Regions from separate parts of the Homo sapiens genome. Here region 1 is linked to region 2. Evidence: fine-mapped expression QTL. A gene starts in region 2. The other region holds a variant in brackets. All regions are shown on one strand. Distances are between the middles of the regions.

Region 1 (4,271 bases), 180 kb after region 2:
AGTGCTGGGCTTACAGACGTGAGCCACCATGCCTGGCCTCTTTGTTGATTTTCTGTCTGAAGTATATGTCTGATGCTGAAAGTGGGGTATTGAGGTCTATAGTTTTTTTTAGTTTTTATTTTTATTTTTTCTGATGGAGTCTCACTACGTCACCCAGGCTGGAGTGTGGCGGCAAGATCTCGGCTTACTGCAACCTCCACGCTTAAACGATCCTCCCACCTCAGCCTCCTGAGTAGCTGGGACTATAGGTGCGCAATACCATGCCTAGCTAGCTTTGCATTTTTTGTAGATATGGGGTTTTGCCATGTTGCCCAGGCTAGTCTCAAACTCCTGGATTCAAGCGATCTGCCCATCTCAGCCTCCAAATGTGCTGGGATTGGAGGAGTGAGCCACCATGCCCAGCCTACGGTTATTATTGTTTTGGGGTCTATTTCTTCAGCTCTAATAATATTTGCTTTATATATCTGGGTGCTCCAGTGCTGGGTGCATATATATTTACAATTATTACATCCTCTTGCTGGATTGACCCCTTTATCATTATATAATTACCTTTGTGTCTTCTTATAGTTTGTCTTGAAATCTATTTTGTCTGATGTAAATATAGCTACTTCTGCTCTGCATGGTTTCCATTGGCATGGAGTATCTTTTTCCATCTCTTTATTTTCCGCCTGTGTGTCTTTATAGGTGAAGTGGTTTTCTTGTAGGCAAAGCAGCATTGGGTTTTTTAAAATCCATTCAGCCACTCTGTGTCTTCTCATTGGAGAGTTTAATCTGTTTATGTTCAATGTTATTGTTGATAGTTTAGGACGTACTTCTGCCATTTTGTTTTCTGGTGATTTTGTGGTCTTTCCTTTTTTCCTTCCTTCCTGTATTCCTGTTAGTGAATGTGATTTTTCTCTGATGGTATGATTTAATTTCTTGCTTCTTACTTTTTGTGTATCTATGGTAAGTTTTTTGATTTGAAGTTACCAGGAGGCTTGCAAGTACTGCCTTATAACCCAGGGGTCCCCCATCCCTGGGCCACAGACAGGTGTCACTCTATCGCCTGTTAGGAACCGGGCCTCACAGTAGGAGGTGAACAGCAGGCAAGTGAGCATTTACCACCTGAGCTCTGCCTGCTGTCAGATTAGTGGTAACACTAGATTCTCATAGGAGCGCAAACCCTATTGTGAACTGTGAATGCGAGGGTTCTAGGTTGCGTGCTGCTTATGAGACTCTTAATGCCTGATAATCTGAGGTAGAACAGTATCATCTCAAAACCATGCCCTACATGTACCCCCTGTCCCCAAGAGAAATTGTCTGAGGTGGAACAGTTTCATCCCAAAACCATTACCCCCACTAGTCTGTGGAAGAGTTGTCTTCCATGAAACTGGTCCCTGATGCCAAAAAGGTTGGTGACTGCTGGTTTATATAACATTCTTAAAATGACAAAATTATGGAAATGGAGAACAGATCTATGGATGCCAGTGTTTAGATTAGAGATGGTGGAGGAGAGAAGGGTGTGTGTGTGTTAGGGGGTGATTTGCAAGGGATAGCAGCAGGGAGAGGTTTGTGGTGATGCAACACTTTTGTTTTTTAATTTTCTAGTTTTTTTGTTTTTGTCCCTTTTGGAGAAAAGGCAAACACATTTATTTAACAGGAGAATCACAGAGTGAGCATCCTGGTGGAACACTTCTGGGTCTTGATTGTGCTTGTGGTTATGAGAATGTATACAATTGATAAGATGACATAGAACT[A/G]TTAATATGTACACACATAATACCAGTGTCAATTTTCTGCCTATAATAGTATACTGTAGATACATACAATGTAGCCCTTAGAGAAAACTTAATGGAAGGTACGTGGGAATTTTCTGTACAATGTTTGCAACTTTCTAGTGACTCTACAATTATTTCTGAAATAAAAAGTTTTAAAAATTCGTAACGTGTTTATTGGTCTGTCTTTTAAAATTATTTCAATAGTTTTTGGAGAACAGGTCGTGTTTGGTTCCATGAATAAGTTCTTTAGTGGTGATTTCTGAGATTTTGGTGCATCTATCACCTGAGCATTGTATACTGTACCCATTGTATAGTCTTTTCTCCCTCACTGCCCTTCCAGCCTTTCTCCTGAGTCCTCAGAGGTCATTATATCATACTTATACTGTTGCGTCTTCATAACTTAGCTCCTACTTATAAGTGAGAACGTATGATGTTTGGTTTTCTATTCCTGAGTTACTTCACTTAGAATAATGGTCTCCAACTCCATCCAGGTTGCTGTGAATGCCATTATTTTATTATTTTTATGGCTGAGTAGTATTCCATGGTGTGTGTGTGTGTGTGTGTGTGTGTATATATATACCATATTTTCTTTATCTACTTGTTGGTAATGGGCACGTAGGCTGGCTTCATATTTTTGCAATTGCAAATTGTGCTGTTATAAATGTGTGTGCAAGTGTCGTTTTCATATAATGACTTCTTTTCCTCTGGGTAGATACCCAGTACTCAGGTTGCTGGATCAAATGTTAGTTCTACTGTTAGTTCTTTAAAGAATCTCCATGCTGTTTTCGATAATGGTTATACTAGTTTACATTTCCACTAGCAGTGTAGAAGTGTTCCCTTTTCACCACATCCACACCAAAAAATTATTTTTTTTTGATTTTTTAATTATGGTTATTCTTTCAGGAGTAAGGTGGTATTGCATTGTGGTTTTCATTTGCATTTCCCTGATAATTTGTGATGTTGACCATTTTTTCATATGTTTGTTGGCTATTTGAATATCTTCTTTTGAGAATTGTCTATTCATGTCCTTAGCCCACTTTTTGATGGGATTATTTGTTTTTTTCTTGCTGATTTATTTGACTTCCTTGTAGATTCTCCGTATTAGTCCTTTGTGGGTTGCATAGTTTGCAGATATGTTTTCCCCCTCTCTGGCTTGTCTGTTTACTCTCCTGATTATTTCTTTTGCTGTGCAGAAATTTTTAGTTTAACTACATCCCATCTATTTATCTTTGTTTTTATTACATTTGCTTTTGGGTACTTGGTCATGAACTCTTTGCCTAAGCTAATGTCTAGAAGAGTTTTTCTGATGTTATCTTCTAGAATTTTTATGGTTTCGGGTCTTAGATTTAAGTCTTTGATGCATCTTGAGTTGACTTTTGTGTAAGGCGAGAGATGAGGATCTGGTTTCATTCTTCTACATGTGGTTTGTCAATTATCCCAGCACCATTTGTTGACTAGGGTGTCCTTTACCCACTTCATGTTTTTGTTTGCTTTGTTGAAGATCAGTTGGCTGTAAATATTTGGCTTTATTTCTAAGTTCCATTGGTCTACATGCCTTTTTTTGTTTGTTTGTTTTGAGATGGAATTTTGCTCTCGTTGCCCGGGCTGGGGTGCAATGGCGCGATCTCGGCTCACTGCAACCTCCGCCTCCTGGGTTCAAGCAATTCTTCTGCCTCAGCCTCCTGAGTAGCTGGGATTACGGGCATGTGCCACCATGCCTGGCTGGTTTTTGTATTTTTAGTAGAGACAGGATTTCTCCATGTTGGTCAGGCTGGTCTTGAACTCTTGACCTCAGGCGATCCACCCGCCTCAGCCTCCCAAAGTGTTGGGATTACAGGCATGAGCCACCGTGCCCGGCCTCTACATGCCTGTTTTTATACCAGTATTATCCTGTTTTGGTAACTATAGCCTTGTAGTACAGTTTGAAGTTGGGTAATGTGATGCCTCCAGATTTATTCTCTTTGCTTAGTCTTGTTTTGGCTATGTGAGCTCTTTTTTGGTTCCATATGAATTTTAGGACTCTTTTTTTCTAGTTCTGTGAAGAATGATTATGGCATTTTGGTGGGAATTGCACTGAATTTATAGATTGCTTTTGGCAATATGGTCATATTCACAATATTCATTCTACCCGTCCATCAGGATAGGATGTGTTTCCATTTTTTCGTGTCATCTGTGATTTCTTTCAGCAGTGTTTTGTAGTTTTCCTTGTAGAGATCTTTCACCTCCTTGGTTAGGTGTATTCCTAAGTATGTATGTATGTATGTATGTATGTATGTATGTATTTTTTGTAGTCGTTGCAAAAGGTGTTGTGTTCTTGATTTGATTCTCAGCTTGGTCACTGTTGGTGTATAAGTGCTGCTGGTTTGTGTACATTGATTTTATATCCTGAAACTTTATTGAATTCATTTATCAGATCTAAGAACTTTTTGGATGAGTCTTTAGGGTTTTCTAGGTATATGATCTGTCTGTTTTGTCTGCTATATAAGTAGTTACTCCTGCTTACTTTCGGCTTTCATT
Region 2 (4,271 bases):
CCTAAAAAACCATGAATGGTATTCTGAATACTTAACACAGAATGCCTCCCAGGCTCCCAAAATACCACATACCCCTGAAAATGTACATAGTTCAACTGAGAGATGAATCAACTATCAAAATGATATTCAGAGTAGCTTTCAAGCACCTACAAAACTCAATGAGAAAATAAAATACACAACAAGTATTATACTGAAATCGAATAAGGAACTCATATCACACTACAATTAAAGTAAACCTCTCCTCCAACTTGGAGTAATAACAAGTTTCTGAACAGTTTTTTATACCAAGGGCAGATTTTTCCAAACACTTGTATAGTTAGGAAAACAAAAGCCTATCCACAACTTCATAAATTCACAAAACTACTTCTCTTACTAATCAACGGGTGGATAATTTATTTCTCCATTCTTTTTTAAGCATGATTCTCGTTGGGGGAAATGAAAGAGGATGGGGATGACGTACTACGAATGCACCAACACTCCAAACCAACAGCTTCAATTTAACCCATCATCCAAAACATCTCCAAAGTGGCGCTAACATTTTTAATAGGTATGTTGCTCTCAGGCTCTCAAGAAACACTTCAGCTTAATAAAGCACCATGTTCCTCTCACTATACTACTTTGGCAAAATGTTAAGATTCAGAGAAGGACTTTTATCCTTTCCTCCAAAATTCTTAACAGCTACATTTCTACCACAGCATCAATAATGTGCGCTCCCATCCCTAAGGGAATTTTGTTTAAGTTGCGTTTACTGTTATTTAACTTTATACGCTGTTATTCTCGTTTTAACAGCATTTAAATTTTTATTATAATTTTTACAGTTTAAGTATTCGCTAGTTGTTCTCTAAAATCTACTTAATTGTAAATCTTTAAAGGCATAACATGGGCATTCTACACTGCTTTGTGATAACTCTGAAAGCCATAGGAATTTGGGCACTTGGTCCATGCATTTTCTATGCTAATAAGCCACTGTATTGAAATATAATACTTGTACTACAAAAGCTATTATCTATATTTGCAGTTATTTATTCAGACTTTTTTTTCTCTTAAGATGTTAAGCTCCTTCAGGGCCAGAACAGAACCGTCTTATTCATTTTAATTCCGTTATCTTCACAAGTGCCTAGCACAGTGCCTGGCAAACAGCTGGTACTCAGGAAACATTGTTGAACTGAATTACCATCAAGTCCCAGGCCTATGGGAGTTACAACCAAATCCCCATCGCTTATGTAATAATACATGCTGTGTTTCCCAAGCGTGGTGGGTGGTACACGAGTCGGTTTCACAGAGTACACAGTTAAATTACTTGATTGTAATTTCTAAATACTTATGTTAGTTTATTAGGAAAAAACATAATCGCACATCAAATCCAAGACTCTGCAGACACTGCTTAGGGTGAAGCTAATGTGGGCAGCACCTACTGAAGTGCTTTTTAAAAAAAACTGAGTCAATTTAAAGAAAAATATCCAGTAAATAATACACGTGAAACAAGAACTTGGCCATAACAGTAAGGGATGACATACAAGTGACTAAAGTTTGAAAGACACTAACACATCAACAAAAATCAAGCCCCTCCTGGGCGTGTGCCACACACGCGCCTCCAAGGGATCAGGCCCGCCGAGACCTACTGCGGAGAGGCGGCCTCCCCGCCGACGCTCGGTTCCCGGGACGGTGCTGCGGAGTGTGTGGAGCAGGCCAGCGCTGGTCTGGAGGCTGGGTTGGGGGAAGCAGGCCAGGGATCCAAAGCCACTGGCACAAGCCTGGCCGGCGGCCCATGAACTCCGCGCCAAGACCCCAGACCTCGTTGGCCCAGCGTCCCGCCAGCTGCGCGGCGGGTTTACCTATCCCGCTTGGTCTCTGGAGGCTCGTCCCGGATGCACCATCGCCCAGACCCTCTTCCTCTTCCTTCCACCCCTAGCCCGCCCCGCCCCGCCCCGGGTTAGTCCCGGACGCCCGCCCGCTCTTTCAGGCCGCCCGCCCCTCTCTCCTCCCTCCGAGTACCCAGCCCTACTGACCGGCCTCTTCCCACCACACAGTGGCCGTAGCCCTTCCTCACACAGCGCCAGGCTTCCATCTTCGCCCTCCGCGTGCGTCCAGTTCCCAGGCCCCGGGTTCCACCTCAATCTCTATAATCGATGCGACGGCCTAAAGTATCTAGGGAACCCCATCACTCTTAAGTACCGACTCCAGTCCTGGCTGCAAGGCATGCTGGGAGGTGCAGTCTCGCCGGCCGGCCTACACTCCATCTTGCGCAGTCAGAGTCCCTGAATGCCTTAACCCGGAATTCTGCTCAAGGAGCATGCGCAGAGCGTGGGACGCGCGTGCAACCATTTCTGAAGAGGGCAAAACACCCGAACTTCGTCTTAAAGAAACAGAAATAAACTTTCTTTTTTTTCTTTTTCTTTCTTTCTTTCTTTTTTTTTTTTTGAGATGGAGTTTCGCTCTTGTCGCCCAGGCTGTAGTGCAATGGCACGATCTCGGCTCACTGCAACCTCCACCTCCCGGGTTCAAGCGATTCTCCTGCCTCAGCCTGCCAAGTAGCTGGGATTACAGGCATGAGCCACCACACCCGGCTAATTTTTGAATTTTTAGTAGAGACAGGGTTGCACCATGTTGGCCAGGCTGGTTTCGAACTCCTGACCTCAAGTGATTCGCCCGCCTCGGCCTCCCAAAGTGCTGGGATTACAGGAGTGAGCTACCGCGCCCGGCAGAAATAAACAGAGCAGTGAAAATTTTTAATTGCCCAAAGTGCAGATTCCCAGCTGAGGCTGAACAACGCATCCTCTGGGTGCCCATGGAACTGAGGTACCACAGAATTTTGCAATTAATGTTGCGGAAGCACAGCCATAGCTCTCACTTTAAAATGTACGTGTATGGGCCGGGCGCGGTGGCTCACGCCTGTAATCCCAGCACTCTGGGAGGCCAAGGCGGGCGGATCACGAGGTCAGGAGATCGAGACCATCCTGGCTAACACGGTGAAACCCCGTCTCTACTAAACATACAAAGAATTAGCCGGGCGTGGTGGCGGGCGCCTGTGGTCCCAGCTACTCGGGAGCCTGAGGCAGGAGAATGGCGTGAACCTGGGAGGCAGAGCTTGCAGTGAGCAGAGATCGAGCCACTGCACTCCAGCCTGGGCGACAGAGCGAGACTCCGTCTCAAAAAAAAAAAAAAAAAAAAAAAAAGTACTTGTATGTCTTGTGTGTCCACCTTTATTAAATGTATTATAGGACTGTAGATTGTTGAAAGACATTATTTAAGTGGAGACCCTGCAAGAAACAGGAAGAGAGAAACCGAGAAAGAATAAAGTGTGGAGAGTAGAGGGGAAAAGGATACTAGAAGGCAGGAGCACTGCTTTTATAGGCTCTTTGAAACAGTGGTAATTTCTTGGGAAGGCTTTTCTTATCCCTGGTGCATAAAAGGAAGTAAAGTGTATTTGAAAAAAACCTTTCCCTCAGTATGTAATTGATTCTTGTTATTTGCAGTAGTTAGGTTCTGTAAAGTTGCTGGAAACACTGAATTAGTAAATACTGAATCATTACTCCTAAGGGAAATACAGGATTAGGATCCTGTAAGCCTCTGGTCGCATTTTCATCAACTTAATCAATACATAGTTTTGTTGTATGTGTGTTTCCGCTTAAAGACATCTTATTTAATATATATTGTTGATTCATTAACATTGAACTCAGTCAACAGCACTATAATTCATACCTCAACAAAGCTTATCTAACACTGCTATTTTCTCTGCAAGGCTCATGACAGCCTTCTTGTGCTTAGGAGCACTATACAGCACAACGCTTGGGGACCATTTTAAACAGCAACATCAACAAAAAGTACAAAAACGTGAAAAACATATCACTAAATGGAATGTGAAAAGGACACTTGGTCCTGATGGCTCACGCCTGTAATCCCAGCAATATGGGAGGCCAAGGCGGCTGGATCGCTTCAGCCAGGGAGTTCAAGACCACACTGGACAACATGGCGAAACCCCGTCCCTACAAAAAATACAAAAATTAGCCGGGCATGGTGGCTCTCGTCTGTAGTCCCAGCTACTCCAGAATTTGAGGTGAAAGGATTACTTTAGCCCGAGAGGGCGAGGCTGCAGTGAACCAAGATAGTGTCACTGTACTCCAGCCCTGGCAACAAGGGGACACTATGGTATAGCATGAGAGCTGAAACAAAAAGGCAGAGAATGCCTTGTTTAGCCTCAGCTGGGAATGTGCACTTTGGGCAATTAAAAATTTTCCCTGCTCTGTACATGTCCAAGAATACATGGAGGT

Evidence for each region. PIP is the estimated chance that this variant, and not a neighbour inherited with it, causes the effect. A credible set is the group of variants that fine-mapping cannot tell apart.
Region 1: its variant is the best candidate, but not a certain one, in a credible set for the expression of ANGEL2 in blood mononuclear cells (TOPMed, PIP 0.76).

Annotation. Positions count from the first base shown.
Region 1 is chr1:213,193,524-213,197,794 of GRCh38, forward strand. All of the region lies in intron 8 of RPS6KC1 (ribosomal protein S6 kinase C1), which reads left to right. Among named protein-coding and RNA genes, the nearest start is that of RPS6KC1, 140 kb to the left of the region's middle. The variant A/G (reference allele first, on the strand shown) is at 1,737.
Region 2 is chr1:213,013,604-213,017,874 of GRCh38, forward strand. ANGEL2 (angel homolog 2) reads right to left here and starts at 2,264. Exons shown (of 9, transcript NM_144567.5): 1 at 2,010-2,264. The coding sequence starts at 2,068. RefSeq lists enhancers at 1,101-1,689, 1,690-2,277, 1,990-2,299.